4 linked regions of the Homo sapiens genome follow. The protein of the gene in region 1 purifies or fractionates together with the protein of each later gene. This does not show direct contact. Each region holds a gene or a part of one and is shown on either strand. Other genes may lie near its edges.

What was found.
Region 2: the proteins of GBA1 (region 1) and NTRK1 purify together in Homo sapiens (affinity purification with mass spectrometry; 2 studies listed by BioGRID). This does not show direct contact.
Region 3: the proteins of GBA1 (region 1) and HSP90B1 purify together in Homo sapiens (affinity purification with western blotting; 2 studies listed by BioGRID and IntAct, with this or other methods). This does not show direct contact.
Region 4: the proteins of GBA1 (region 1) and CANX purify together in Homo sapiens (affinity purification with mass spectrometry; 3 studies listed by BioGRID and IntAct, with this or other methods). This does not show direct contact.

The regions. Positions count from the first base shown.
Region 1 is NC_000001.11:155,238,250-155,245,725, reverse strand, and holds the start of GBA1 (lysosomal acid glucosylceramidase isoform 1 precursor), read left to right. Parts: upstream 1-4,476; 5' UTR 4,477-4,613; coding exon 4,614-4,640; intron 4,641-5,008; coding exon 5,009-5,096; intron 5,097-5,648; coding exon 5,649-5,840; intron 5,841-5,963; coding exon 5,964-6,110; intron 6,111-7,075; coding exon 7,076-7,209; intron 7,210-7,419; coding exon 7,420-7,476. UniProt on the Homo sapiens protein: Glucosylceramidase that catalyzes, within the lysosomal compartment, the hydrolysis of glucosylceramides/GlcCers (such as beta-D-glucosyl-(1<->1')-N-acylsphing-4-enine) into free ceramides (such as N-acylsphing-4-enine) and glucose.
Region 2 is NC_000001.11:156,863,865-156,870,864, forward strand, and holds part of NTRK1 (high affinity nerve growth factor receptor isoform 2 precursor), read left to right. Parts: intron 1-489; coding exon 490-564; intron 565-863; coding exon 864-935; intron 936-3,045; coding exon 3,046-3,114; intron 3,115-4,239; coding exon 4,240-4,385; intron 4,386-4,640; coding exon 4,641-4,783; intron 4,784-7,000. UniProt on the Homo sapiens protein: Receptor tyrosine kinase involved in the development and the maturation of the central and peripheral nervous systems through regulation of proliferation, differentiation and survival of sympathetic and nervous neurons.
Region 3 is NC_000012.12:103,940,410-103,947,409, reverse strand, and holds part of HSP90B1 (endoplasmin precursor), read right to left. Parts: intron 6,001-7,000; coding exon 5,863-6,000; intron 5,782-5,862; coding exon 5,704-5,781; intron 5,579-5,703; coding exon 5,513-5,578; intron 4,884-5,512; coding exon 4,614-4,883; intron 4,337-4,613; coding exon 4,091-4,336; intron 3,673-4,090; coding exon 3,536-3,672; intron 793-3,535; coding exon 714-792; intron 625-713; coding exon 469-624; intron 100-468; coding exon 1-99.
Region 4 is NC_000005.10:179,694,105-179,702,367, forward strand, and holds the start of CANX (calnexin isoform d precursor), read left to right. Parts: upstream 1-4,862; 5' UTR 4,863-4,998; intron 4,999-5,470; exon of another isoform or gene 5,471-5,507; coding exon of another isoform or gene 5,508-5,666; intron 5,667-6,370; exon of another isoform or gene 6,371-6,429; intron 6,430-8,263. UniProt on the Homo sapiens protein: Calcium-binding protein that interacts with newly synthesized monoglucosylated glycoproteins in the endoplasmic reticulum. It may act in assisting protein assembly and/or in the retention within the ER of unassembled protein subunits.

The sequences.
Region 1 (7,476 bases):
TTTTTTGAGACAGGGTCTTGCTTTGTTACCCAGGCTGGAGTGCAGTGGTGTGATTTGGGCTCACTGCAACCTTCCACCTCCTGGGTTCAAGCAATTCTCCTGCCTCAGCCTCCCGAGTAGCTGGGATTACAGGCGCCCGTCCCCATGCCCGCCCAGCTAAATTTTGTATTTTTAGAAGAGATAGGGTTTCACCATGTTGGCCAGGCGGGTCTCAAACTCCTGACCTCAAGTAATCCGCCTGCCTCGGTCTCCCAAAGTGCTGGGATTACAGGTGTGACTCACCGCGCCTGGCCACATACCCATGGTTTCAGCATGTATCACTATCTAAAATTATTATTTTTGTTTATATATCTGTGTCGTCCCATAGAATGTTAAGGTCCCAAGATCAGAAACTTGCTCATTGCAGTGGGTCTAACACTCAGTAGGTCCTCAACAAACATTCGTTAAGATACTAAAGTGGCAGGGTGGGGCCCTGTAAACAGCTTCAGGACCCTGTGCTTGTAGGGGCAACGTGGTGCCCTCCAAGGAAGACAGGGAGGTGGGAGGAGCACTGCCCAGAGATGGCGTCAGGCTGCAAGACTTCTTGAATAATTCAGCATCATAACAACCCAGCCTCAGGAAGGGATAGGGCACGGCCAGGACGAAACATTAGGAGGCGATGGACAATGGGATTCCCACGGGGCAGCTTCTGCGCACTGGACGTTCCCTAACCTGAGGCTCTCTAAAGAGGAAGGTTAGGAATCCTCTGAGCTTCGGTGGGCTGGACTCACTGTGGGAATTCAATCGCCCCCATCCACCAACAGTGTGCTGGCGGGAAAACGCCGACACGCATGCGTAGTTCTCGCGCCGGCTCCTCTCTCTCTCTCTCTCTCTCTCGCTCGCTCTCTCGCTCTCTCGCTCTCTCTCGCTCGCTCTCTCGCTCTCGCTCTCTCTCTCTCTCCGGCTCGCCAGCGACACTTGTTCGTTCAACTTGACCAATGAGACTTGAGGAAGGGCTCTGAGTCCCGCCTCTGCATGAGTGACCGTCTCTTTTCCAATCCAGGTCCCGCCCCGACTCCCCAGGGCTGCTTTTCTCGCGGCTGCGGGTGGTCGGGCTGCATCCTGCCTTCAGAGTCTTACTGCGCGGGGCCCCAGTCTCCAGTCCCGCCCAGGCGCCTTTGCAGGCTGCGGTGGGATTTCGTTTTGCCTCCGGTTGGGGCTGCTGTTTCTCTTCGCCGACGGTAGGCGTAATGAATATTTCGACCTTTGGATCTTAGCTGTCCCCTCCCTGCGTTCGCACTTAACCTTTTTCACCATTATTATTATTATTGTTATTATTATTATTTTTTGAGGGAGTCTCGCCCTGTCGCCCAGGCTGGAGTGTAATGGCGCCTTCTTGGCTCACTGCAACCTCCGCCTCCCGGGTTCAGGCGATTCTCCGACCTCAGCCTCCCAAGTACGTGGGATTACAGGCACCCGCCACCACGCACGGCTAATTTTTTGTATCTTTTAGTAGAGACGGGGTTTCACCATGTTGGTCAGGCTGGTCTCCAATTCCTGACCTCGTGATCCGCCCGCCTCGGCCTGCCAAACAGCTGTGATTATAGGCGTGAGCCACCGCGCCCGGCCAACCATCATTATTATTTTTAACGGTAAGGATGGTCAGATTTTACTAATGAAGAAGAGATTATAAAATCTTCAAGTCTTTATATCCACTTGCTTTTTGAGGGGTGGAGTGGGAAGAAGGTTATGTAATTCATACGTTCTTCAGACATGTGACAAACATTCACGGAGCCCGGCGACGAGCGTCGGGGTTGGGATTCGCACTGGAGCTGCAGATGGGTGCCAGGATGGACTGGTCCCTACCCTCCGCTTGAACCTAGGAGGCGGAGGTTGCAGTGAACCGAGATCGTGCCACTGCACTCCAGCCTGGGTGACAGAGATACTCCGTCTCAAAAAAAAAAACAAAACAAAAAACAAGCGGACTGGGCGCAGTGCCTCACCCTGTAATCCCAGCACTTTGCAAAGCCAAGGCGGGAGGATCCTTTGAGTTTAGGAGTTTGAGACCAACCTGCGCAACACAGTAAGACCCCGTCTCTACAAAAAATACAGAAATTAGCCAGGTGTGGTGGTGTGCGCCTATAGTCCCAGCTATTCTGGAGGCTGAGGTGGGAGGATTGCTTATTCTGGAGGCAGAGGTTGCACTGAGCCGAAATCAAGCTACTACACTCCATCCAGGGCAACATACGGAGACCCTGTCTCAAACAAACAAACAAAAAATTGCTCAGTACCTGGCCAAAAAAGAAGAGGCTCACTATGCAGAGGGGAAGTGGAAGGAGATGTTTGGACTTCTAAACTCAATAGAGCAGGAGAGGCAAATGTAGAATGTGCTCAGGAAATATCTGTGAGATGAATGAACTTGAGGGAAGTAAGGTACTAGATATTACCTGCCCTACCCAGAACAAATCCTGTGCAATGTTTCCTTGAAAAGTGAGAAGTCTGGAAGGGGTGGCTACTGACATAGTGAAGCAACTAGTTCAATTCTACAACTTGACAGCTACCCCTGTGCCAGGCTATCTACGAGGATACTTAGAATGCATAAGACATTCCTTCAAGGAACTCCAGGAACAGAGGCCTGACATGTTGCAATGTTTAGTGTCAAGCAGTGTACTAGAGACACATTATCACACTCAAACCTCACAACAATTCTGTGAGGTAGGAGTTATCACTCCCCTTTTATAGATGAAACAGAGGCTTAGAGTGATTGATTTATTGAAAGTCAAACAGCCAGTAAATGGTGTAGCCAGGATTCCAAACTTGCTGTCTCACTGAGACTGTACTTAATTACTGGAGGGACCGGGTGTGGTGGCTCATTGCTATAATCCCAACACCTTGGGAGGCTGAGGCTGGTGGATCACCTGAGGTCAGGGGTTCGAGACCAGCCTGGCCAACATGGTGAAACCCCATCTCTACTAAAAATACAAAAATTAGCTGGGCATGGTGGTGGGCTCCTGTAATCCCAGCTACTCAGGAGGCTGAGGCAGGGCAATTGCTTGAGCCGAGATCACACTGCACTCCAGCCTGGGCAACAGGGCAAGACTCTGTCTCAAAACCAAAAAAAAAAAAATTACTGGAGGAACCTAGAAGAAGAAATGATCAATTTTGCTTGGAGTGTATCTAGAAAGACTTCACTGAGATCATTTAAAGAACAAAAAGGATGGCTGGGGTCCAGCGCAGTGGCTCATGCCTGTAATCCCAGCACTTTCGGATACCAAGGCAGCAGATCACCTGAGGTCCAGAGTTTCAGACCAGCCTGGCCAACATAGTGAAACCCCATCTCTACTAAAAATAAAAAAATTAGCTGAGCATGTTGGAGGGCACCTGTAATCCCAGCTACTTGGGAGGCTGAGGCAGGAGAATCACTCGAACCCAGGAGGTGGAGGTTGCAGTGAGCCAAGATCACGCCACTGCACTCCAGCCTGGGCAACAGAGTGAGACTCTGTCTCAAAAAACAACAACAACAAAAAATACAAACAAGAGACAAGTAGTTCCCAGGTGCCTACCAAGTGGTCAGGCACTGCACTTACCTCACTGACTGCAGTAACCACCCTTTGAGGTTGTGGCATTGCCTCCATTTTCCAGGCAAGGAAATGGGCTGAGAGCTGGGATTAGTCAGGTCATGACTGTGTGTGCCACTCCCGCTAAATCTCATTTGATGTGGTTCATGAGGCCACACCATGGACAGCTTCCTCCTTGTGTCCACTGAGGATATGGCTTTGTACAACACTTTGGTTTTTGAACGACTTTACAAACCTCCCTGTCTTGTGAGGAAGGAAGAACAGTTATTACCATCTGCATCTGATGATGAAACAAGGGACGCTGCAGAGGAGCCGCACTGACCACTCCCTCCCTCCAGTCCTGTCATCCCACTGCCAGTGTCCCACCCTCTTGTGCCCTGCACTTCACTGGCTAATAACCCCCCTCACTTTTTCCTCTGTGAAGCCATCCTGGATAATTCCCCACCCACGAATGGTCCCTCCTCATCTCAGAGAGCTCTCCATGCACACCTGTTACCGTTTCTGTCTTTATCTGTAAATATCTGTGTGTCTGACTTCCATGCCTCACACACCTCTATAGGGCAAAGACTGTCTTAAACATCTTGGTAGTGTCAGTATTTTGCACAGTGAAGTTTTTTTTTTTAAATTATATCAGCTTTATTTGTACCTTTTTGACATTTCTATCAAAAAAGAAGTGTGCCTGCTGTGGTTCCCATCCTCTGGGATTTAGGAGCCTCTACCCCATTCTCCATGCAAATCTGTGTTCTAGGCTCTTCCTAAAGTTGTCACCCATACATGCCCTCCAGAGTTTTATAGGGCATATAATCTGTAACAGATGAGAGGAAGCCAATTGCCCTTTAGAAATATGGCTGTGATTGCCTCACTTCCTGTGTCATGTGACGCTCCTAGTCATCACATGACCCATCCACATCGGGAAGCCGGAATTACTTGCAGGGCTAACCTAGTGCCTATAGCTAAGGCAGGTACCTGCATCCTTGTTTTTGTTTAGTGGATCCTCTATCCTTCAGAGACTCTGGAACCCCTGTGGTCTTCTCTTCATCTAATGACCCTGAGGGGATGGAGTTTTCAAGTCCTTCCAGAGAGGTAAGAGAGAGAGCTCCCAATCAGCATTGTCACAGTGCTTCTGGAATCCTGGCACTGGAATTTAATGAATGACAGACTCTCTTTGAATCCAGGGCCATCATGGCTCTTTGAGCAAGGCACAGATGGAGGGAGGGGTCGAAGTTGAAATGGGTGGGAAGAGTGGTGGGGAGCATCCTGATTTGGGGTGGGCAGAGAGTTGTCATCAGAAGGGTTGCAGGGAGAGCTGCACCCAGGTTTCTGTGGGCCTTGTCCTAATGAATGTGGGAGACCGGGCCATGGGCACCCAAAGGCAGCTAAGCCCTGCCCAGGAGAGTAGTTGAGGGGTGGAGAGGGGCTTGCTTTTCAGTCATTCCTCATTCTGTCCTCAGGAATGTCCCAAGCCTTTGAGTAGGGTAAGCATCATGGCTGGCAGCCTCACAGGATTGCTTCTACTTCAGGCAGTGTCGTGGGCATCAGGTGAGTGAGTCAAGGCAGTGGGGAGGTAGCACAGAGCCTCCCTTCTGCCTCATAGTCCTTTGGTAGCCTTCCAGTAAGCTGGTGGTAGACTTTTAGTAGGTGCTCAATAAATCCTTTTGAGTGACTGAGACCAACTTTGGGGTGAGGATTTTGTTTTTTTTCTTTTGAAACAGAGTCTTACTCTGTTGCCTGGGCTGGAGTGCAGTGGTGCAATTTTGGCTCATTCCAACCTCTGCCTCCCAGATTCAAGCGATTCTCTTGCTTCAGCTTCCCAGGTAGCTGGGATTACAGGCGGCCACCACTACGCCCAGCTAATTTTTGTATTTTTAGTAGAGACGGGGTTTCACCATGCTGGCAAGGCAGGTCTCAAACTCCTCACCTCAGGTGATCCGCCCACCTCGGCCTCCTAAAGTGCTAGGATTACAGGTGTGAGCCCCTGCGCCCGGCCAAGGGGTGAGGAATTTTGAAACCGTGTTCAGTCTCTCCTAGCAGATGTGTCCATTCTCCATGTCTTCATCAGACCTCACTCTGCTTGTACTCCCTCCCTCCCAGGTGCCCGCCCCTGCATCCCTAAAAGCTTCGGCTACAGCTCGGTGGTGTGTGTCTGCAATGCCACATACTGTGACTCCTTTGACCCCCCGACCTTTCCTGCCCTTGGTACCTTCAGCCGCTATGAGAGTACACGCAGTGGGCGACGGATGGAGCTGAGTATGGGGCCCATCCAGGCTAATCACACGGGCACAGGTAACCATTACACCCCTCACCCCCTGGGCCAGGCTGGGTCCTCCTAGAGGTAAATGGTGTCAGTGATCACCATGGAGTTTCCCGCTGGGTACTGATACCCTTATTCCCTGTGGATGTCCTCAGGCCTGCTACTGACCCTGCAGCCAGAACAGAAGTTCCAGAAAGTGAAGGGATTTGGAGGGGCCATGACAGATGCTGCTGCTCTCAACATCCTTGCCCTGTCACCCCCTGCCCAAAATTTGCTACTTAAATCGTACTTCTCTGAAGAAGGTGAGGAGGAAGGGGACAAGATGACATAGAGCCATTGAAACTTTTCGTTTTTCTTTTCTTTTTTTAAAATTTTTTTGAGGCAGAATCTCACTCTGCCCATTCTGTCGGCGAGACAGGAGTGCAGTGGTGTGATCTCCCCTCACAGCAACCTCTGCCTCCCAGGCTATAGTGATTCTCCTGCCTCAGCCTCCTGAGTAGCTGGAATTATAGGCGTGCGCCACTACCACCTGGCTAATTTTTGTATTTTTAGTAGAGACAGGGTTTCATCATGTTGACCAGGCTAGTCTTAAACTCCTGACCTCAAATGATATACCTGCCTTGGCCTCCCGAAGTGCTGGAATTACAAGTGTGAGCCACCGAGCCCAGCAGACACTTTTCTTTTTTCTTTTTTTTTTTTTGAGACAGAGTCTCGCACTGTCACCCAGGCTGGAGTGCAGTGGCACAATCTCAGCTCACTGCAACCTCCACCTCCCGGGTTCAGGTGATTCTCCTGTCTCAGCCTCTCGAGTACCTGGGATTACAGGTGCCTGCCACCACGCCCGGCTAATTTTTTGTATTTTTAGTAGAGACAGGGTTTCACTATGTTGGCCAGGATGATTGCGAACTCCTGACCTCGTGATCTGCCCACATCGGCCTCCCAAAGTGCTGGGATTACATGCGTGAGCCACTGACACTTTTCTTTGCCCTTTCTTTGGACCCTGACTTCTGCCCATCCCTGACATTTGGTTCCTGTTTTAATGCCCTGTGAAATAAGATTTCACCGCCTATCATCTGCTAACTGCTACGGACTCAGGCTCAGAAAGGCCTGCGCTTCACCCAGGTGCCAGCCTCCACAGGTTCCAACCCAGGAGCCCAAGTTCCCTTTGGCCCTGACTCAGACACTATTAGGACTGGCAAGTGATAAGCAGAGTCCCATACTCTCCTATTGACTCGGACTACCATATCTTGATCATCCTTTTCTGTAGGAATCGGATATAACATCATCCGGGTACCCATGGCCAGCTGTGACTTCTCCATCCGCACCTACACCTATGCAGACACCCCTGATGATTTCCAGTTGCACAACTTCAGCCTCCCAGAGGAAGATACCAAGCTCAAGGTAGGCATTCTAGCTTTTTCAGGCCCTGAGGGCCCTGATGTCTGGGGGTTGAGAAACTGTAGGGTAGGTCTGCTTGTACAGACATTTTGTCCCCTGCTGTTTTGTCCTGGGGGTGGGAGGGTGGAGGCTAATGGCTGAACCGGATGCACTGGTTGGGCTAGTATGTGTTCCAACTCTGGGTGCTTCTCTCTTCACTACCTTTGTCTCTAGATACCCCTGATTCACCGAGCCCTGCAGTTGGCCCAGCGTCCCGTTTCACTCCTTGCC
Region 2 (7,000 bases), 1.6 Mb from region 1:
CAGGGATGCCTGATATAAAAGGAGAACACCAATCTGAGAATGGACTTGTGTGTGTGCACGTGAGAGATGGACGTGAGCTTTGTTTCTGTGTGTCCATGGGTGAGCGTGTTCCTGCAGGCACATGTGCAGGTGCATGGCGTCATCTGTGCAGATGCTTATGCCTCTGTGTGTGCGCATGTGCATACCTAGGTGTGTGCATGTGTGCAAGAGGTATGTGAGAATGTGCATATGTGTGAGGGTGTGGGGATCCATATGTATGTGCGCTTGTGTGTTCATGCACACACATGTGCATGTGTGACTTGAGGTGCGTCTCTGTGCACATGTATGCATTTGTGTGTGCACGCCTGTGTAAGTGTGTATGCAGGTCTGAACAGGTGCATATGCGTGTGCATGTGGCATGTGCATGTGTATTGTGAGGGAGTAAGTGGGTGGGCATGGGAACTCAAGTGTGGGCCTGAGCCCTGTGACTCCCATCCGCTCTCCCCACAGCTACATCGAGAACCAGCAGCATCTGCAGCATCTGGAGCTCCGTGATCTGAGGGGCCTGGGGGAGCTGAGAAACCTGTGAGGGAAACGGGGACTGTGGGTGTGGAGCTCAGCATGGGCCTGGGGGAGACCAGAAGGTCAGGGAGGGCTCAAGCATCCGAGGGCCTGGGAGGACCTGAGAGGCTGAGCACTGAGGGACTGGGAGAAGTCAGGAAGCTCAGGGCTTTGAGGGGTCTAGAGTAGTTGAGGAAACAATGAGGGGCCTGAGGAGGGGTAGGGGTTCAGCACAGGGGACTGGGAGGCTGGGATGGGCAGGGAGGGCCAGGGGCCCAGAGTAGCTGAGACCTGGGGACTGATCCTCCTGCACCCCTCCCCAGCACCATCGTGAAGAGTGGTCTCCGTTTCGTGGCGCCAGATGCCTTCCATTTCACTCCTCGGCTCAGTCGCCTGTGAGTGTGGCCAGTGCTGGGCAGTGGGAGTTGGGGAGGACACCCAGACTTGGGCTGCTAATGGGCTTGGCTGTCCCCGGGGAATGATTGCGAGGAGGGCCCAAGCCTGGTCAGGGAAGTCACCTCACCATTCTCCTGGGGCTTCCTCCCATCTCCCTCAGGGATGGCATGCTCTCGCCCCTGACAGCTAGAGGTCCTCCTTGCCATCTCACTTCCATGGTCCATGCTGCAAGGACACTTCTCATAGGTGCCTGCCCTATCTTTCTTCCCAGGGCTCAGATACACACCAGTGCAAAGGGAGCAAGCGGCAGGAGCAGGACTCCTGGGTTCTGGCTGGGACTCCATTTCCCAGGGACTCATTGACTTGGCCCCTAGGACATCCTGGGAGCTGGGGTGTTAGGTCTGCCACTTGTCACCCTCCTCATTCCTGGGAGTCATAACTATCCCTCCTGTAGAGCAGTGGACCCCAACTTTTTTGGCACCAGAGACTGGTTTCATGGAAGACAATTTTACCACGGATGGTGCGGGAGGAGAGGATGATTTCAGGACGAAACTGTTCCACCTCAGATTATGAGGCATTAGTTAGATTCTCAAAAGGAGCACACAACCTAGATCCCTCACGTGCGCAGTAGTTCACAGAATCTAATGCTGCCATTGATATGACAGGAGGCGGAGCTCAGGCGGTAATGCTCACTCACCGCTGCTCACCTCCTGCTGTGTGGCCCGGTTCCTAAGAGACCACATATTTGCCCTGTTTATAGCCCCTCTTCCTTGCTGTGCTTCTCTTTTTCTTTAATTTATTTTTTAAGAGTCAGGGTCTCCCTCTGTTGCTCAGGCTGGAGAATAGTGGCACTATTACCCATCTGTGGCCTGGGAATTGGGGACCCCTGCTGTAGGACAGAGAGGGTCATGGGATGGGCAGGAGAGACTATCAGAGTCCCTGGCAGCCCCTCCCTGGCCTTCTGAGGGCAGGAGTTCAGCTCCCCTGTCCCCCAATATGAGCAGGCAGAGAGATGGGAAGGATGGTGGGGCTGACACTCATGGAGTTATGCAGGGTCCTCTAAACTCTGCTGTGTCCAGCAATTTAACAAAGCAAAATAAAGTGATGTCATATCACCGTCTATGCACCGGGGCTTCAGTTAAAAACGTGCTCAATGACACTTCACGATACTTATGTCAATGAATCTTCACAATCAACCTGGTGAGAGAGAGAGTGTTCTTGTCCCCATTTCATAGATGAGAATTCTGAGAATCAGAGAGGTTGAGTTTCTGGACTGAGGTCACACAGCTGTAAGTGGCAGGATAGAACTTACACCTGCTCTAGCTGGCTCTAGAGTGGGTTGTGTCTTTGGTCCCTATGTGGTGGTACTTCTCCCACCCAGCCACCACAAATTCTAGGTTGGCTAGGAAAGAAGAGGGGTCAGGATAGGCCCCTCAGAGGCAGAGGGTCCCAGCAGCGGCAGCCTGGCACAGGGCACAGGGCACTGGGGCTCCTACATCATTTTCCTGTGTGGCCTGGAGCCGGGCCCCTGCTGGGCTCACTTTTTCCATCCATACAACGAGGGGGCTGGGGGTGTGGGGGTGTGGGTCCTTTCCTGCCTGACCTTTTAGTCCCTGAGGAGGGCCCGGAAGGAGGAGGAGGAGGGGAGCTGAGGAAGTGCGTGGAGTTCCTTGTGGTCAGGTAGGGGCAAGGGAGTGGCAGCCTCAACCCTCCCCCTCTTCCTCTGGCCCCGTCCTGGGCTCTGTAGGGAGGGGAGCACAGATGGACCCCTTCCCCCAGCTGTGGCCTCAGCACTTTGCCAGCTGGGGCCAAAGCAGTGGGGGAGGGAGGAGCGGCTGTTCCCTCAGATCCCCCTCCCTGGGGTCTGGAGAGGGGGTTAAGTGGGGTTAACCCTTGTTGTCCCAGGGAAAGGAGTGGGACTCAGAAAGTCCCCCCACCCCCCACCCCACCATCTACACACACTGCCTTCCAGGGCTGGTTCTGGTTGCCTAGGCCGGGGCGGGGGAGCCAGATGTCAACTTCTTTCTTGGCTCCTCCCCTCCCTCATTCTGGTCAGAGTGAGGTCGGGTCACTCAAGGGGTCTGTCTTGCTGTGTCTCCACGCCCGCAGGAATCTCTCCTTCAACGCTCTGGAGTCTCTCTCCTGGAAAACTGTGCAGGGCCTCTCCTTACAGGAACTGTGAGTGGGGGCGCTTCCAGGGGCAAGAGCACCAAGTGTGTGTGTGCCTGTGTGCACTTGGGTCTGTTGGATGACATTGGGTCACTGTGTCTGTGTGACACTGCTGGGGGGTCTCTTTGGGGACTATGTGCATGCCAGTGAAACCCCCATCAAAGCAGGGGCTGCAGGACTACCCGTTAAGGGGGCTACTGCCCTGAGGAGCTGGCCTGGATGACTGTGTGTGTGCTGGGCCTGGCTGAGCAGATTACAGGCCCACTGTGTGTCCAAGGCACATCTGCCCACATTCCCAGGGCACCCTGCACAGGGGTGAGTGGGGCAGCAGGGGTCCATGTGTACCTGGTGGGCACTTAAAGCCTCTGGGTCACTCTGGGGGGCTGTGCCCTTCCCTCCTTGTCACCATGCTGAGAGCCCTTGCCTGGTTTCTCATCCTGGGGAGCCTGGGGTGAGGGAGCCCCATGCATCCCTCAGACGTCAGCTGTCTTGTCTTCCACTTTCTGCATTAGATTTCTTTCATTTTTACGTTATTTTTTCTTTTTGTAGAGTTGGGGTTTTGCCATGTTGCCCAGGCTGATCTTGAACTCCTGGGCTCAAGCCATCCTCCGCCTCGGCCTCCCAAAGTGCCGGGATAACAGGTGTGAGTCACAGCGCCTGGCTTATTTCTTTTCTTTTCTTTCTTTCTTTTCTTTTCTTTTCTTTTTTTTTTTTTATGAGACGGAGTCTCGCTCTGTCACCCAGGCTGGAGTGCAGTGGCACAATCTCATCTCGGCTCACTGCAAGCTCCGCCTCCTGGGTTCACGCCATTCTCCTGCCTCAGCCTCCTGAGTAGGTGGGACTACAGGTGCCCGCCACCATGCCTGGCTAAGTTTTTGCATTTTTAGTAGAGACGGGGTTTCACTGTGTTAGCCAGGATGGTCTCGATCTTCTGACCTTGTGATCCGCCCGCCTCGGCCTCCCAATGGCCTATTTCTTTGAATAACATCCTGTTACTGGAGTCAGAGAGAAAGACCTCTGTGTCCTCCCTTTCACCTGTAGACGGTCCTCCCTGCTGCCTAACTGCTCCCTCTTATCCCCTGTGATCCCTCAGGCCCTTTCCTTGACTCTGTTGGTGTCCCCCATGCCCCCCAGGGTCCTGTCGGGGAACCCTCTGCACTGTTCTTGTGCCCTGCGCTGGCTACAGCGCTGGGAGGAGGAGGGACTGGGCGGAGTGCCTGAACAGAAGCTGCAGTGTCATGGGCAAGGGCCCCTGGCCCACATGCCCAATGCCAGCTGTGGTAGGTGCCGGGTGAGGGAGGTGGTGTAAGGGGGCTGGGGAAGAGACCTACCTGCCTGAGGGAGAGGGCACTGAGCAAGCACTGAAAAGGCCTGGGGAATGGGCACTGGCAAAGGCTGGGGGAAACTGCCTGGGGTGACATCGCCTGGGCTCCAGGTCATTGAGGAGGGTGGGGGAAGGAGCAGCCCCGCAGTAGAGTTCTGGGGCCACTCCCAGCTCTAACACCCCTTGGCCCTCGGGCGTCCTGGGTGGCCAGGTGTGCCCACGCTGAAGGTCCAGGTGCCCAATGCCTCGGTGGATGTGGGGGACGACGTGCTGCTGCGGTGCCAGGTGGAGGGGCGGGGCCTGGAGCAGGCCGGCTGGATCCTCACAGAGCTGGAGCAGTCAGCCACGGTGATGGTGAGAAGACCTTCGCTGGCAGCCCCCAAGAGGTCCAGGCAGAGCACAGGGGACAAAGATGGGGAAAGAGAGACACACTGTGGAGGAAAGAGACAACGAATAAGGAGCACACTGAGGTTGAGGGACGGACAGAGATGGTTTAGACCCACAGGGCTCAGGCCTATGCTCTGGGGCAGCCCAGGGCACGCACACACCCTCAGGGTGGGCACTGACCCAGCAGGGACCCCAGGCTATACTTGAAGCCCCAGGACTTAGAACCCCTTTCTGGGAACATGGTGTTGGCTGCAAGGGAGAGGGTCACAGAAACCTTACATGTTGGAGCTGAGAGGAACCCAACAGACCATCCCTCCCGTACATCACTTTTCTCTCTCCCTTCCTTCCTTCCTTCCTTCCTTCCTTCCTTCCTTCCTTCCTTCCTTCCTTCCTTCCTTCCTTCCTTCCTTTTATGGAGTTTCGCTCTGTTGCCCAGGCTGGAGTGCAGTGGCGCGATCTTGACTCACCGCAACCTCCGCCTCTCGGGTTCAAGCGATTCTGCGATTCTCCTGCCTCAGCCTCCCGAGTAGCTGGGAGTACAGGCACGCGCCACCATGCCCAGCTAATTTTTGTATTTTTAGTAGAGACAGGGTTTCACTACGTTGGCCACGCTGGTCTCAAACTCCTGACCTCGTGATCCACCCACCTCGGCCTCCCAAAGTGCTGGGATTACAGGTGTGAGCCACTGTGCCCGGCAGATCACTTTTCTATATAAGGAAACTGGAACCCAGGGAGGAGGCACAATATCAGTTGTACTGCATCCGGGATGAGTTCTCGGGGGTATCGTGGTCTTTTTTCTGGAGATTCTGGAAGCAGCATCCTCTTGGGCATGTGATGAACGTATTAGTAAGGGAGGCATAGGTCTGGCTCCAGCTCTCTCACTAATTAATTCTGGGAATGACTTTCAGAAAAATCCCTTAATCTGCCTGCACTTTGGTTTTCTTATCTGTAAGCTGAGAAGGTGGACATGATGGCCTTCTGATGTCCTGCCTGCCCCTGGGCGTTCTCTGGCCTCTATCTCTGTTATCCATACATGCCTTTGGACATCTTCCCAGGCCTTACCCTTTGTCCTTAGGCTGGCGATGGGCCGATGAGAGTAGCCACAGGTAACTCAGTCGGCCTTGTTGACGAGGTCAACGGCAGCTGACAATGGGCTGTGCCCACCCAAAAAGCTGGCTCCACCTGGGCAGGAGGAGTGGATATGCAGGGACCAGGAATGTGTGCCTGGGGGGCTGGGAGCATGGTGTTTATTTGGGGAGCCTTCACTTTGGTGGGAGAGTCCACCCCAGAATTGCTGGAGGCCCCTGGAACCATGTTGAGGGAGATGCCACTGGGGCGCTGAGCAGGGGGCTTCAGACATGGTGGAGGGACAACTAGCCACTGAGCAGTTCCTCCCTGCTCCAGAGAGCAAAGCTGCCTAGAGTGAGTAAAAGAAAGGGGACCAGGCAGAGGCCATACCCCTGCATGGAGAGACCTTAGATCAACTCTGTTTGGGGTGATTCCAGGATTTGCTTTCTCTTTGGGAGACTTACATGTTTGCTACCATCTGTGTTTTCTAGAAACTACCTATACAAAAGTCACTCCCTACTGGGCACAGTGGCCCATACCTGTAATCCCAGCACTTTGGGAGGCCAAGGAGGGATAATCACTTGAGACCAGCAGTTTGAGACCAGCCTGGGCAACAAAGCAAGACCCTATCTCTTAAAAAAAATTGCACCCTAAATGGGTTAAATGGAGGAGAAGAGAGGCTGCTCTCCCTCAGTTAGGAGGATAAGGGGTGGCAGACCAGCTCAAGGGGAAGAGTTATTGGCCCCACAGTAGTTGGAGGGGATGGGACAGCCAAGGGAAGCAGAGGGCAGGGCAGGGCTTCCCCTCGAAGTGGCTGGAACCCAGAGCTTGCACAAAAGGCTGGAAACTCTACTGGAACCTTTGAACTCACATATTCCAATGGAAGCCTGGGGAAACCATACCTCCTCTGGCATGTGGTCAGAGGATTCCACATTTATAAAGTTTTCGGATAAATGAGATTTATCCACCACTTCATTATTTTCATTTTGTGAAAATCACTTTCTAAAATGTCAGAAGATAATTTGTCCACCTCTTCAGCTTACAAAACAAACAAAAAACCCACAGTTCAGCAAGATGAAGAATTGTCGTAAGATCATGTAACTTACACATGACAAA
Region 3 (7,000 bases), on another chromosome or scaffold:
ATCTGTTCCCACATCCATTTCTTCATCTTCGTCTTGCTCTGTGTCTTCTGTTGTGTCTTCTGCTGTCTCTTCAGGTTCTTCTTCGGGCTCTTCTTCCACCTAAACACAACATTTATGGGCCCATTAATGCCTTGGATTTATTTCCACTTTGCTCATTTATATGTATAAAATCATAATTAATGTCACTTCTGTTTATTCAGAACCACAGACTAAATCCTCTTAACTAGAATGAACAGCCAAGCTAACAAAAGGAGGCAGGCAAAAAGGAAAGAGGACGTAAAAGGAGGACTTAGTTTCTAGTGCAGTGCCTGACACTACAGGGATTCAAACATTCAATAAAATTCTTTCAAAAGGTAGAAATTAGGCAAATGTCGCAAAGCTACATCCCTCAATCATGAGAGGCCTATTCTGAAAGAACAGAAACAAAGAAAGCCAGCCAGCCTTTGCGGGAAGGTTGGGGATACAAACCTTTGCATCAGGGTCAATGTTCAAACTGAGGCGAAGCATTCTTTCTATTCTATCTCCATATGCTTTAGTGTCTGGTAAAAGATACCCTGACCGAAGCGTTGCTGTTTCAAACAAAACCACAGCAAGATCCAAAACTGTTTTATCATCTTCATCTTCCTGAAATGCAAGAAGATGCACTAGATTAATATTAAAAGATACAAAGTACTCAAATTAAAAGACAAGCAAGAGGACTGCTTTAATACTACCTTAATTCGTCGAAGCATGTCTCTGATCAGCGGGTGTCTGGGATTAATTTCAAATGTTTTCTTCTGACTCGCATAGTAACTGTTAAGAGATAAAAATGAACATTAACAAAACATATCCAATTTTAGGGTTCATACGTTTCCCTTATTCTTTCATAATTACACAGAACAACTCTTGGTAAAAAAAAAAAATCAAAATGTACTATTGACACTTGAACACCACAGGTTTGAACTTATATGCTATTTTTTTTCCAATAAATACAGTCCGCCCTCCGTATGTGCAGGTTCAGCAACCAAACTCAGATAGAAAATACCGTATTCTTGGGATGTGGAATCCACACACACAGAGCTCCCACTCTTCATATACACGGGTTCCACAGGGCAGACTGGGGGACTAGAATATTTGTGGATTTTGGCAGGGGTCCTAGAACCAATCTCCCTCATACACCTAAGGACGACTGTACTTTTCCAGTCTACTTTATCTGCAGAGTCAATCAACCTCGGATTGAAAATATTAGAAAGGGCAAAACAAGAAAAAAATAAAAAACCCAATACAGTATAATAGCTATTTACATAGCACTTAAATTGCATTAGGTATTAAAAGTAATCTATAGATTATTTAAAGTACATGGGAAGATGTGCATAGGTTATATGCAAATACGGCACGACTTTACCTAAGGGACTTGACTATGTGTGGATTTTGGTATCCATGGGATGTTCTGGAACCAACACCCCATGGACAAAAAGGGATGACTGCACTGTTTCCTTATTTAGTTTTTATAGAGACAGGGTATCACTATATTGCACAGGCTAGTCTTGAACTCTTGGCCTCAAGTGATCCTCTCACCTCAGCCTCCCAAAGTGTTGAGATTACACACGTGAGCCATGTGCCCAGCCTGTATTGCTCCCTTTTAACGGGGAGGTGGGGTGGGGAGCAAGTGGACACGGTTAGATGAAAAATGAAATGAAGGGAACTATTTTATTTACTGATGAGTCCCAAGTACCTGGAGCACTGCTGAACAGACGAACTGATTTAATGTCCTGTTTGTTCCCTCTTAGTTTATTCTTACTACCGTAATTGTAGCTCTGCCTCCCCAAGTTCAGAAAAATCTATGTAGCCTCTGGATTGTGCTCCAATAATAATACCTTCTCCACGATGCCTTCGCCAATGATTCCAAGAAAAATTAACTTTATCTGAGCTCAGTTCCAAATGCATTTTGAATATACCTTCAAAATCCTTAGCTTTTTACTGTTGGTTGTGATTATTCTCTCTTCTCTAGTTTAAAGCTCTGAGGACAGGGAGGAACCACATCCTTCCCTATCCTGGTGTACCCATTATCTATGTAGGGCTCGGATTATGACTTGCTTTTTTTCCTCTTTTTTAAATAAAAAAGAGACGGAGTCTGGCTATGTTACCCAGGCTAGAGCTAGAGTGCAATGCCATTACAGCACACTACAGCCTCGAACTCTTGGAATCAACTGATACTCCTGCATCAGCCTCCTGAGTGACAACAGGAGTGAGTCACCATGCCTGGCTTTGATTTGTCATTTTCACTAGTCTAAATGTTAGAAAAGACAGGAGTTATGTCTACCTGTGACCATCAGTGCATGGACATAGTAAGTCTTCATGTTTGTTGGATGCAAGGTAACTTCCTATTAATCATTTCCTGAAATTAATAGGTGGACATGTTTTAAATGGCCCTTGTACTATTGCAATGGGATATCAGATAAACAGAACACTATTCTCTGCATGAAATTTATAGTTAAAAGACATATATGGAATTTTAGAATTGTGACAACAATGGAGACTACATTTGTGAGAAAAGGCTTTAAGAATAATAATCCTGGCCAGGCGCAGTGGCCCACGCCTGTAATCCCAGCACTTTGGGAGGCCGCAGAGGGCGGATCATGAGGTCAGGAGTTCGAGACCAGCCTGGCCAACATGGTGAAACACCGTCTCTACTAAAAATACAAAAATTAGCGGGTGTGCTGACAGGTGCCTGTAATCCCAGCTACTCAGGAGGCTAAGACAGGAGAATTACTTGAACCCAGGAGGCGGAGGTTGCAGTGAGCAGAGATTGCGCCACTGTACTCCAGCCTGGGTGACAGAGCAAGACTCTGTCTCGGGGGAAAAAAAAAAAGAATCCTTAAGCTAGGCCTTGGGAAAAAAGGATGATGACTAGATAGCATATCAGAAACATACTCCAGGTGAAAGAAGAGAGAATAAAAGTAGGGGAGAAGTCATTTTCAAGATCATTGCTGTGACATTAAAACATAAACTTGAAATACTATATTTCTTGAAAATAAAGAGTACCAAAGACTCACTATACCTCCAGGTATAGGCCCTTGAGTTCAAATACTGTTAATTCACAGGTCCTGTACCGTCTACTTTATGAGACATTCTATCTGGATACCCATAATTTAATGCTTGGGGGTGTGGGGGACGTGATTTGAAATGGACTTAACTCACTTGAGGAATGTTGTCATTAACCTCGTGCAGCTATTACATTTAAAAATGTAAAATAAATTCAGATATTAGGCTAAGCATATAATCCAATGCAAAAGTAAAGACTATGCATAACACATTAAGAAAATTCCCATTTACATATCAAATACAATAAAATCAGAAAATCATGAGTCAAAGACCTTTTCTTTCTCAATCAAATGTAGGAGAAATCCCTTCGTAAACTTGTTGTCTACCTTATAGTAGACAGTGGTAGACATTTAAGGCAATTTTACTCTTTGTATTGAAGCTGGTATTATCTCCAAAACAAAGATTGGGTAAGGGGCAACGCCCTGGCAGGGACTTTCCCGAGGATGCTTACTTTGTAGAGATGTCCTTGCCCGTTTGGTACGCTTGTGCTTTCATGATTCTCTCCATGTTGCCAGACCATCCGTACTGGCTGGCCACCAAAGCACACGGAGATTCTGTCAGGCGCTGAGACACCACAGCCTTTTCAATCTTAGGGAAAGAAATCAAGTCATATAAATTAATATCAACAGGTAAGGTCATTGAGCAATTGTCTTTCAACTGTCTAAGACTTTATCACTTAAGATCATAAACACAGAAGCAGGTCATAAAAATAGCTTTTCTTAAGGTTTAGGAGAATTTGTAGGGGCACTTACTTGATAATCTGAATTTTCTAGTCAGAAGTTTAAATACCACCTTTTAAAAACATAAAATTTAATTTGTAACAAGTTATTAACAAAGCAGTATTGTCGAAAGTTTTAAGCTTTCTCCCAATAATTTAATTACATTAATTAAATTTTTACCATTCTAATGGTTACAAAGTAACCAGCTGCAGCTTAATTTGTTCACAAAATAACTTTCTCTTAAATGCTGATACTAATATTTCCACAATTTGTAATTTCCACAGTACCTTGTCCTTAAGGGCTTTATCTTTCATCCAATTCAGCAGAGGCTCAAATTCTTTCTCAACTGCTTCACGACTCTCCTTAGTTTTCTCACTTTCATCGAACTTCACTCCTTCCTTGGCAACATTCTGGAACCTCTTCCCATCAAATTCGGGAAGGGCCTGAATACAGTATTCATCCACAGGTTCTGTGAGGTAAATAACTTCATAGCCCTTTTTCAGAAGTCGCTCAACAAATGGAGAAGATTCAGCCTACAAAATTAAGAAGTCACAAAGTTTTCCAAGTCTGGCCCTGGTGTATTTGTTTATCCTAGCAGCTGCTATGTTTATACATTATTAAAAACTCCATTTTACAGGTGAAGAATTAAGAGGTTCAGAGAATATAAATGACCTTCCTGTCAGTGACTGACCAGGCCTTATAACTACTCCAGTTACACAATTAAGTTTTCCTTTTCTCCCCCTCAAGAGTTGGCTATAAATCCCTAGCTACCTTCCAGAATGGCTGACAACACTTATGAGTTCATCTCACCTCTTTTCTGCTGGACCCAGCCATGAAGTAGATTTTGTCTTGTTTTTCCTTCATTCTTTCCACATACTGGTCTAGGCTAGTAATGTCAGTTGGATGATGAGAAGACTGGAACCTAAGAAGTTTAGCAAGACGTGTTCGATTCGAGTGGTCTTCAATCACACCAAGCTTGATGTTGGTACCAAATTCTTTCCAAAAAGTATCATTGTATTTATCATCAGCAATCTTCTTGATCATGTCCAGCGTTTTACGAACAAGCTTCTTCCTAATCACCTAAACACAATGAAAGAATAACTGATTAGAGAAGTTAATCTCCAACTTTTGAGAATGTAAGGTACCCAGGCAGGAGTGTGAAAAACACAAAGACGATATCGTTATTGCCATTTATTGAGGGGCAGGAAATGGTGAAGCACTCCAATTCATTCAGATTGGGCTGAAATTCAGCTGTCCGTGCAAATAGCCACAAGATTGCCTTAATGTTTATATTCTAACCTTAGGACTCAGTGATACTCTCTCTCTAGCATCTAAATGAAGTGAACAAATATGCTACTTTCAAATACTTTTAAATTCAAAAACTAAAGAGTCTTCTAATTATGGAAGTATTGGAGGGGAAAGGTTTAATGAAAGGCTTGATAAAAAGGTGGCTATGTGTCTAGATGACAAAATGTTAATCCTGGACCTGTACAATTCTTTAATTTTTTTCTAGATGTTTGAAACTTCATTATTAAATGTTGGGAGAAAAAGAATCAGATTCTTAGGATCTGATAACTCCAGAAAGAAAGGAAATTCATCTGAAGAATCATGGACCAGACCCAAAATCTGGTTTTACTCCACAAATGGAGCCTGTCCTCTGAACCCCAATCAAACAGCAAAGTGGAGAGTTTCTTCCCAGAGACACTTACCTTAAGCAGTTTATGTTGCTGAAGAGTCTCGCGGGAAACATTCAAGGGGAGATCATCTGAGTCCACCTTCAGATGGCAAAAGAAAGTTCAGTGAGCAATAAAACCACTGGAAGAAAGCAAAGCCAAACAAACACTCTACACTGCCAGACCCCCACAACAATCACCCCTTCTCCCAAACTTCAGATACTTACCACACCCTTGACAAAATTGAGGTATTTAGGCATCATATCATGGAAGTCGTCTGTGATGAATACACGGCGCACATAGAGCTAAAGAGACCAAAAAAAAGTCACTTTCTGGAAATTAAACTTTCAAATTTTAAACGCAGCATGTACTACTTAAAAACTCACCTTAATGTAATCGCTCTTTTTAGATCCATATTCGTCAAACAGACCACGTGGAGCAGATGTGGGTACAAATAAAATTGATTTGAAGGTAACTTCCCCTTCAGCAGTAAAGTGAATATAAGCCATGGGGTCATCACTTTCCTGTGGAAAGTTGGTATCTTAGTCATTCAAACGACACAGGAGAAAAGCAGTGCAAGAACTAAGCAATGTACTATGTGGTACATATTCAGTTTAGCAATTAACTAACAAAAAATTTTCCTTTACTGGCGGGAGGTGGGGAAGAGAAAGAAAAGGGTGGGGGGAAGAGAAAGAAAAGGGTGGAGTGAAGAAATATCTAGAATTGCAATTCTAATTCACTAGACATGGTTGTTTTGATGATGATTGTCAATAACATTATTTCCTAAACTCTCAGAAGGAAGGATGAGTTTATACTTCTTACGTATGAGAGAAGTGAATAGGAAAACCACCACCCTGCCTAAATGACAAAATTACATACAACACTTCAGTGTGCCCTTGAACTACAGTAAGTACTCAAGAACATGTTTCTTCCATGGAACTTAGCTCTAAGAGTGGCTACAAAGATGTATGTAAATACCTGTAAAACAAAGTTGGAAATTCTCTTGATCTGCATTATCTATTACTGTATATGGCTGTTAAGCACTGAAATGTAGCTAGTTCAAATTCAGATGTGCTATTAAAGTGTAAAATACATTTTGAAGGCACAGTACAAATTTTAAAAAGGATATAAAATGTCTCATTATTAGTTTTTATATTGATTATGTTGAAATAATACTATTTGGGGTATGCTGGGTTAAATAAATTATACTATTAACATTTCATGGTTCCTTTTTTTGTATGGCTTCTAAAAAATTTCAAATCATGTGTGGCTCACATTAATTATATTTCTAATACAGCTGCTTTATATGAAGTAAGTTTATAGACACTAGGACTTTAGAGTTTATGGAAATAAAAGTGAAGGCAGAACCAACAGTGTTTTAAGAGTTGAAATTTAAAGGATATGGAATAGAGAAAAGAACAAATACAGACACAGAATATTAAGTTTTATTTAGCTATGGTTAAGTCCACTAGAGCATTCTACTGCTTGTACTAAATGCTGCTGGGGAAACATTAACTTTAAACA
Region 4 (8,263 bases), on another chromosome or scaffold:
TTGCACTCCAGCCTGGGCAACAAGAGAGAAACTCCGTCTCAAAAAAAAAAAAAAAAAAAAAAAAAGGAATGAGAGCGAACAATACAGCCAGGATGGCTAAAGGTGACCCCAAGAAACCAAAGGGCAAGATGTCTGCTTATGTCTTCTTTGTGCAGACATGCAGAGAAGAATGTAAAAAGAAAAACCCTGTCAATTTTGCAGAATTTTCCAAGAAGTGCTCTGAAAGGTGGAAGACAATGTCCGGGAAAGAGAAGTCTAAATTTGATGAAATGGCAAAGACGGATAAAGTGCACTGTGATCGGGAAATGAAGGGACCAGCTAAGGGAGGCAAGAAGAAGAAGGATCCTAGTGCCCCCAAAAGGCCACCATCTGGATTCTTCCTGTTCTCTTCGGAAATCCGCCCCAAGATCAAATCCACAAACCCTGGCATCTCTATTGGAGATGTGGCAAAAAAGCTGGGTGAGATGTGGAATAACTTAAATGACAGTGAAAAGCAGCCTTACATCACTAAGACGGCAAAGCTGAAGGAGAAGTACGAGAAGGATGTTGCTGATTCTAAGTCGAAAGGGAAGTTTGATGGCTCAAAGCGTCCTGCTAAAGTTGCCTGGAAAAAGGTGGAAGAGGAAGATGAAGACGAGGAGGAGATGAGGAGGAGGATGAATAAACAAAGTGTTTATCTGTCAAAAAAAAAAAAGTAAATGGATAAAAATGTGAGTGCTCCCTCTCTCTGTGTGCCCACTTTCTCCTTCAAGCAAAAGGTAGGCATGAGCAAGGATGAGGGTGGCTTTGAGGGAAGGATGGAGAGACAAGCTATGAGAAGAAGCTGGATACGAAGGATAAATGGATCAACAATTTTGTTTACTCTTTTAAACATACTGCCTATTTTGAAAAAAGTACAAAAGCTAAAGCTAAAATTTATTCCTTTTTTAAGTTTTTATTTCTTTCATTTATTTATTTATTTTTGAGACGGAATCTTGCTCTGTCTCCCAGGCTGGAGTGCAGTGGCGCGATCTCAGCTCACTGCAAGCTCCGCCTCCCGGGTTCACGCCATTCTCCTGCCCCAGCCTCCCCAGCAGCTGGGACTACAGGCACCCGCCCCACACCCGGCTAATTTTTTTGTGTGTGTGGTTTTTTTTAGTAGAGACGGGGTTTCACCGTGTTAGCCAGGATGGTCTCGATCTCTTGACCTCGTGATCCACCCGCCTCGGCTTCCCAAAGTGCTAGGATTACAGGCGTGAGTTTGAGGCGGAGTTTCACTCTTGTTGCCCAGGCTGGAGTGCAATGGCGCAATCTCAGCTCACCGCATCCTCTGCTTCCTGGGTTCAAGCGATTCTCTTGCCTCAGCCTCCCGAGTAGCTGGGATTACAGGCATTAGCCACCATGCCCGGCTAATTTTGTATTTTTAGTAGAGACAGGGCTTCTCCATGTTGGTCAGGTTGGTCTCGAACTCCTGACCTCAGGTGATCCACCCGCCTTGGCCTCCCAAAGTGCTGGGATTACAGGCGTGAGCCACTGTGCCTGGCCTATTTTTATTTATTTATTTATTTTTATTTTTATTTTTTTTGAGACGGAGTCTCGTTTTGTCGCCCAGGCTGGAGTGCTGTGGCGCAATCTCCGCTCACTGCAAGCTCCGCCTTCCGGGTTCACACCATTCTCCTGCCTCAGCCTCCCGAGTAGCTGGGACTACAGGCGCCCGCCACTGCGCCCGGCTAATTTTTTGTATTTTTAGTAGAGATGGGGTTTCACCGTGGTCTCGATCTCCTGACCTCATGATCCACCCGCCTCGGCCTCCCAAAGTGCTGGGATTACAGGCGTGAGCCACTGTGCCTGGCCTATTTTTATTTTTTTAGACAGGGTGTTACTCTGGTACAGTGGCCCAATCTTGGCTCACTGCAGCCTTGACCTCTTGGCCTTAGACAATCCTCCCACCTCGGCCTCCTGAGTAGCTGAGACTACAGGCTCAAGCCACTATGCCAAGCTAATTTTTGTATATTTTGTAGAGATGGGGTCTTGTCATGTTGCCCAGGCTGGTCTTGAATCCTGGGTTCAAGTGATCCACCCACCTTCGCCTCCCAAAGTGCTGAATTAGAGGCATGAGCTACCTCACCCGGCCTGATTCTTTGTTGAAAAAATCATATGCATGTTTAAAGAAAGTGTCATTTCTTTTTTTTTTTTTTTTTTTTTTTTTGGAGACAGAGTCTGGCTCTGTCACCCAAGCTAGAGTGCAGTGGCACAATCTTGGCTCACTGCAACCTCTGCCTCCCGGGTTCAAGCGATTGTCCTGCCTCAGCCACCCGAGTATCTGGGACTATAGGTGTGCACCAGTATGCCCGGCTAATTTTTGTATTTTTAGTAGAGATAGGGTTTCACCATGTTGGCCATACTGGTCTTGAACTCCTGACCTCAGGTAATCCGCCCGCCTCAGCCTCCCAAAGTGCTGGCATTACAGGCGTGAGCCACTGTGCCTGGCCAAGAAAGTATTTCTGCTTCTAGAGTTTCAGGCCCCCTCTCCAGCATTAACCTTTCCTAGCAGTTTCTCGTGTTTCTTTCTAGTAAGCTTGTTTGGCCAAGCTTACATGTATGAGAATACATCTCCCTTTTCAGTATGAAAGGAAACACACCTTTCTCTGTGCTTTTTCACATGACACTAAATCTTGACTGTTGCTCCATGTCAGAATGTAAACAGGCTGTAAACCTCTTGTTACTGCACTTCCTTTTATTGGTTTTCACAGATGCTGTGTTTTTACAAATTGAATGTGGCAACCCTGCATCAAGTAAGTCTATAAGCACCATTTTTCCAACAGCACGTACTCACTTCTGGTCTCTGTCACATTTTGGGAATTCGTATAATATGTTTTCATTATTATATCTGTCATGGTGATCCAGGTTGATGTTACTATTGTAATTGCTTTGGACTGCACAAACGATGCCCATGTAAAACATCTGTTTGTTTTTATTATTTATTTATTTAGAGACGGGTTCTCACTCTGTTGCCCAGGCTGGATGAAATGCAGTGGCCTGATCTTAGCTCACTGCAGCCTCCTCAATCAGGAGTCAAGGATACTCCTGCCTCAGTCTTCCTAGTATCTGGGTCTACGGGTGTGCACCATGCCAGGCTAATTTTTTTATTTTTATGTTTGTAGAGACAGGGGTCTCACTATGTTGCCCAGGCTAGTCTTGAACTCCTGGCCTCAAATGATCCACCTGCATCAGCTTCCCAAAGTGCTCAGATCACAGGGAGAGCCACCTCGCCCAGCCAATTCTGACCTCTTTGCCAGTCCATTCTGGATGGAAGCAGTCCCTCCCCTTCAGAATCCCATTGAATTCTCCATAGTACCACAGTCTTTTGGCACTTACCTTTGCAGGAGTAGCTCTTTTGCTCACAAATGTACTTCCTGTAACTACATTTTAAGCTCATTATTTGGATCATGTAGCATCCAGAATTTTATTCTGCTTTGAATAGCTGCTTCCCCAGGTAGACAGGAAACCAAAATTCTCCTACACAAATTTTGGGGCTGAAGTTGGGGCGCCGTGGCTCACGCCTGTAATCCCAGCACTGTGGGAGGCAGAGGCAGGTCGATCACCTGAGGTCAGCCTGGCCAACATGGTGAAACCTGTCTCTACTAAAATACAAAAATTAGCCGGGCGTGGTGGCGGGCGCCTGTAATCCCAGCTACTCGGGAGGCTGAGGGAGAATCGCTTGAACCCGGGAGGCGGAGGTTGTAGTGAGCTAAGATCGCACCACTAGACTCCAGCCTGAGCGACAGAGCAAGACTTCGTCTCAAAAAAATAAAAATAAAAAAAATTTGGGGGTTGAGGGTTGGATGATACTAACTCATGCAAACACCAAACCCTGCCTTTCTTCCCCTTCCCGGTGGCAAGAGGGCTTTTCAGATCAGTGATACATTCGCTGATTCTAGTGTTTTCCACCCTAGTAGTCAAGCCTTTGGGTGTCCAAACAAATAGAGAACAAGAGATCAGGATCTCTAAAGGTCTAGAAAAACCCTGGGCCACTTCCATTTTGTGAGGTTCTCAGCATACTGAAAACTGAAGATGTACTAAGAGTGGGTTACTAAAATGGTGGCGTATCTTAAATCTTTCCATGGCACCATCCTTTCTCTCGTCCTGTCATCCCTGTATCTCTCTGCCCTGACACCTAATCTCACTTCAGGAAACATAAATTGAAAGTTCAAATAACCTCGGATTATATTATTCTGGACTGTGTGTTATGCTGGGCGACGAGGCTGCGCAGGCTCCTGGGCCGAGCCATGACTCTGCAGGAACTGCGGCGCCGGCTCACACAGCGCGGAGCAGTGCACGCCAATCCGGCCAGGCGCTCGCGCTGGGTTCTGCTCACGCCCGTAGGGGCCCGCGTTCGCTGCAACGGGCCCTTCCTGATGGCCGATCGTCGGACTCCTACCCCTTTTGCCGGCTGCCGTTTGCCCCGTCAGCGAAGGGCGCGCGATGCGTCCCAAGTCTCGGCTCCAGGAACCAGACGGGTGAGGGCTACTGGGGGTTGGGTTGGAACGCCCCGAAGGCACCACAGCAACCGACGCGGGAACGCCTGTTAAACCAGCCCCGCCCCGAGACGCGCGCGCCCGGCGGTCTCGATCCAGCGTGGCCCGCCCCTCACCTCCCGCCCAACCAACAGCCACTTCCTGCCTCACTCCCGGCCAATCTTCACACTCCACGAAGAATAGCCGTAGGGGGCGTATGGGACGGTGCGTAGAGCGATGCCCACGCCGGCCAACCGGATGTCGGGGCTTGCGCGGGAGGGCGGGACTTGGCGCCGGCTGTGGCTACTCAGGGGCCAGGGGCGGGCACAGGGCCGGGCTTCGTGCGGTGGGGCTCGCTCGCGCGGCAGCGGTGGCCGAGGCCTCTTGGTTCTGCGGCACGTGACGGTCGGGCCGCCTCCGCCTCTCTCTTTACTGCGGCGCGGGGCAAGGTGTGCGGGCGGGAAGGGGCACGGGCACCCCCGCGGTCCCCGGGAGGCTAGAGGTGAGAGGGGAGACCTGAGCGCGTCCTCGGGCCTGTGAGGACCTCGGGGGGCTGGGAGCGCCTCTGCGGCTGAGGGGTCGGGCGTGGCCGGCGACTGAGGGGTCGGGCTGGCTCTTGAGGGCCCAGGCCCTGGCCGACGCGCCCGCCGTGAGCGAGGAGGCCCGAATCCGGGCGTCTTTGGTTGGGTTGCGGGCCCAGGCCGCGCCGCCGGGGTCGGGAGGCGTGGCAGGTGGCCCGACAGCCTTCTTTGACCTCTGGGAAAGCTGACTTATTCCTATGGCTTTGCTTCTAGGGCTTTCTTAGGCCTCTTTGCCGGCTGCCTGGGCAGCCGCGAGGTGGGCTGGAGTAACTGGGTAAAAGTATAGGGTGGAATCGGGCCTACTAGGTACCCCTAGTAGTAGGGAAGGGTGGTATTAGACCGAGAGGGAATGTTTACAACTAGCGTTACAGTTTAATATTTGAAAATCCAAAGCGGAGACTGGACCCTAGTTCCCTGAAGAGAAAGGGGAATGTACCAGAAGGAGAACACGCAGTGGTTGAGAAACTTAGCAGTTACAGCACCTATTCTGGAGGCGAGTAATCCAGTTGGAGAGGGACAGGGCGTTAAAAGCAGGAAAGCCCCCGAAAGCTCATCTAAGTGCATCTCTTTCCACACCGGAGGCCTGGAGGTATGAAATGACTGGCCCAAGGTCATGCGATTAGTGTACTGATGGTGCTGGGATTATAGTTCAGGGATAGACCGTGCAGTGGTTAACGCTAAGGCCCTGGCTCGAGTCTTTGATTGGTCATTGGTTGCTCTGTGAACTTCGGCAGTTTTCTTACCCTTTGTGCCCCCGTTCTTGTCAAGTAATGGATATAATAATACCCGATGGATTTGTGAGGATTAAATTAAGATATGTATACAATAAGACAGGGAAGTCCGACATTTAGTAACTGCTCGATGATCATTGCGGTACGTTATTATAATCTGAATGCCTTTGGACCAATACACTGCCATCCTAGTGAACTGGTTCAGTCCTGTTTCGCAGGACCTGAGGTCACAGTTATGGTGATAGAAGAAACCGGGCATTGTGTATTACCGCTGGGCATGACACAAGTGATTGCTGGTTGAGGGAAGTTAAACTGAGCTTAATATTAAAAGATTGAGAGGACAAGATTAACCATAGTTAAGTCTTTTTACCTCTGATTTAGGAAATGGAAGATTTTGCTTAATTTTTTAATAAGTAGATTTTTTTAAGGGGGAAGAATTTTATTGATCTTTAAAATCATTCTGTATCTCAGTCTTTTCCCAACATTGTTTGAGGGTCATGAATAGAAGCAACTGCCATATGGATCAACTGTTGTACATTTGGTATAATTATACTTAGAGCAGAGGTAAAGGACTATGTGGGAGTTCTCCTGTGCATCAGCCAGGGTGCACACACAAGCCAGGTAACTGGATCATGAGAATGCTCGAGTGAACTGTGTGTGGGGGTCAGTGTTGCACAACAGAAATTTTCTGACTTATCTGCAAATGGCTGTCAGCATTCCCCGACACCTTACTATCCTTACTCCCCAGTTCATTTAGCGCATTATCTTCTCAGGGCCACAAGGGATAAGTGTTTTGACAGAAGTCGTTGCTGCCGTTTTGGCAATCACACTATTGCATCCTTTTAGTTAGAGTTCTCTTTGCCCTGGAAGACAGCTTAAGGGGATGAAGTGGCAGTTGGTGAGCATGAATTGCAGGCTCATGAAACTTGAATTGTGTGCCCAGTGTGGTAACCTTTTTTTTTTTTTTTTAGACGGAGTCTCGCTCTGTCACTCAGGCTGGAGTGCAGTGGCGCGATCTCGGCTCACTGCAAGCTCCGCCTCCCGGGTTCACGCCATTCTCCTGCCTCAGCCTCCCTTGTAGCTGGGACTACAGGTGCCCGCCACCACGCCCGGCTAATTTTGTTTTTGTATTTTTAGTAGAGACGGGGTTTCACCGTGTTAGCCAGGATGGTCTCAATCTCCTGACCTCGTGATCCGCCCACCTCGGCCTCCCAAAATGCTGGGATTACAGGCGTGAGCCACTGCGCCCGGCCCAGTGTGGTAGCTTTTGTCCCACTTTGGTTTCCGTAACTTCAAAATAGGAATGAGAAGTCTCCTGGGTTCCTCACCTTTAGGGGGCAATTGGGAGGGGCAGATAAAATGGTGAACATGAAACTACTTTAAAAAGTGTAATGAATTGGCTGGGCACGGTGGCTCTCACGCCTGTAGTTCGAGCACTTTGGGAGGCTGAGGTGGGCGGATTACTTGAGGCCAGGAGTTGGTAACCAGCCTCGCCAAAATGGTGAAACCCTGTCTCTACTAAAAATACAGAAAATTAACCTCCAGCTACTCGGGAGGCTGAGGCAGGAGAATCACTAAACCTGGAAGGCGGAGGTTGCAGTGAGCGGAGATGGTTCCATTGCACTCCAGCCTGGGTGACAGAGTGAGACTCCATCTCAGGAAAAACAAAAAAAAAAGTGTAATGAACTGTGCAAATAGAATACGCCGTTTATAATAACTCCTAGGAAATAATAAAAGTACCTAAACAGTTAAAACCTATACAGCTTTTGGTAAAACTTTTCAGGAAAGTCCTGGTTGAATTCTTTGTTACTCCAACAGATGTACTTTTTTTTTTTTTTTTTTTTTTTTTTTGAGACGGAGTCTCCCTCTCAGGCTGGAGTACAGTGGTGTGATCTTGGCTCACTGCAACCTCCGCCTCCTGGGTTCAAGCAATTCTCCTGCCTCAGCCTCCCAAGTAGCTGGGACTACAGGTGCCCACCACCACACCCGGCCCGGTTTTTTGTATTTTAGTAGAGACGGGGTTTCACCGGGTTGTCCAGGCTGGTTGCGAACTCCTGAGCTCAGGCAGTCCGCCCACCTCGGCCTCCCAAAGTGCTGGGATTACAGGTGTGAGCCACCGCGCTCAGCCTTACTTATTTTTTTAGAGACAGGGTCTTGCTCTTCATCAGGCTGGAGTGCAGTGGCGTGGTTATTGCTCACTGCAGTCTCAAACTCCTGCTGTTATTGGTTCAAGTGATCTTCCTGCCTCAGTCTCCTGAGTAGCTGGATCCACAGGCGGATGACGCTACACTCAGCTAATTTTTTTTTTTTTCCTAATTTTTCATAGATACTTCGCTTTGTTGCCCAGGCTGGTCTCGAACTCCTGAGCTCAAGCGATCATCCTGCTTCCTCCAACTCCCAGAGTTCTGGGATTACACGCGCGAGCCACGATGCCAACCAGGAGACCAGAAATTAA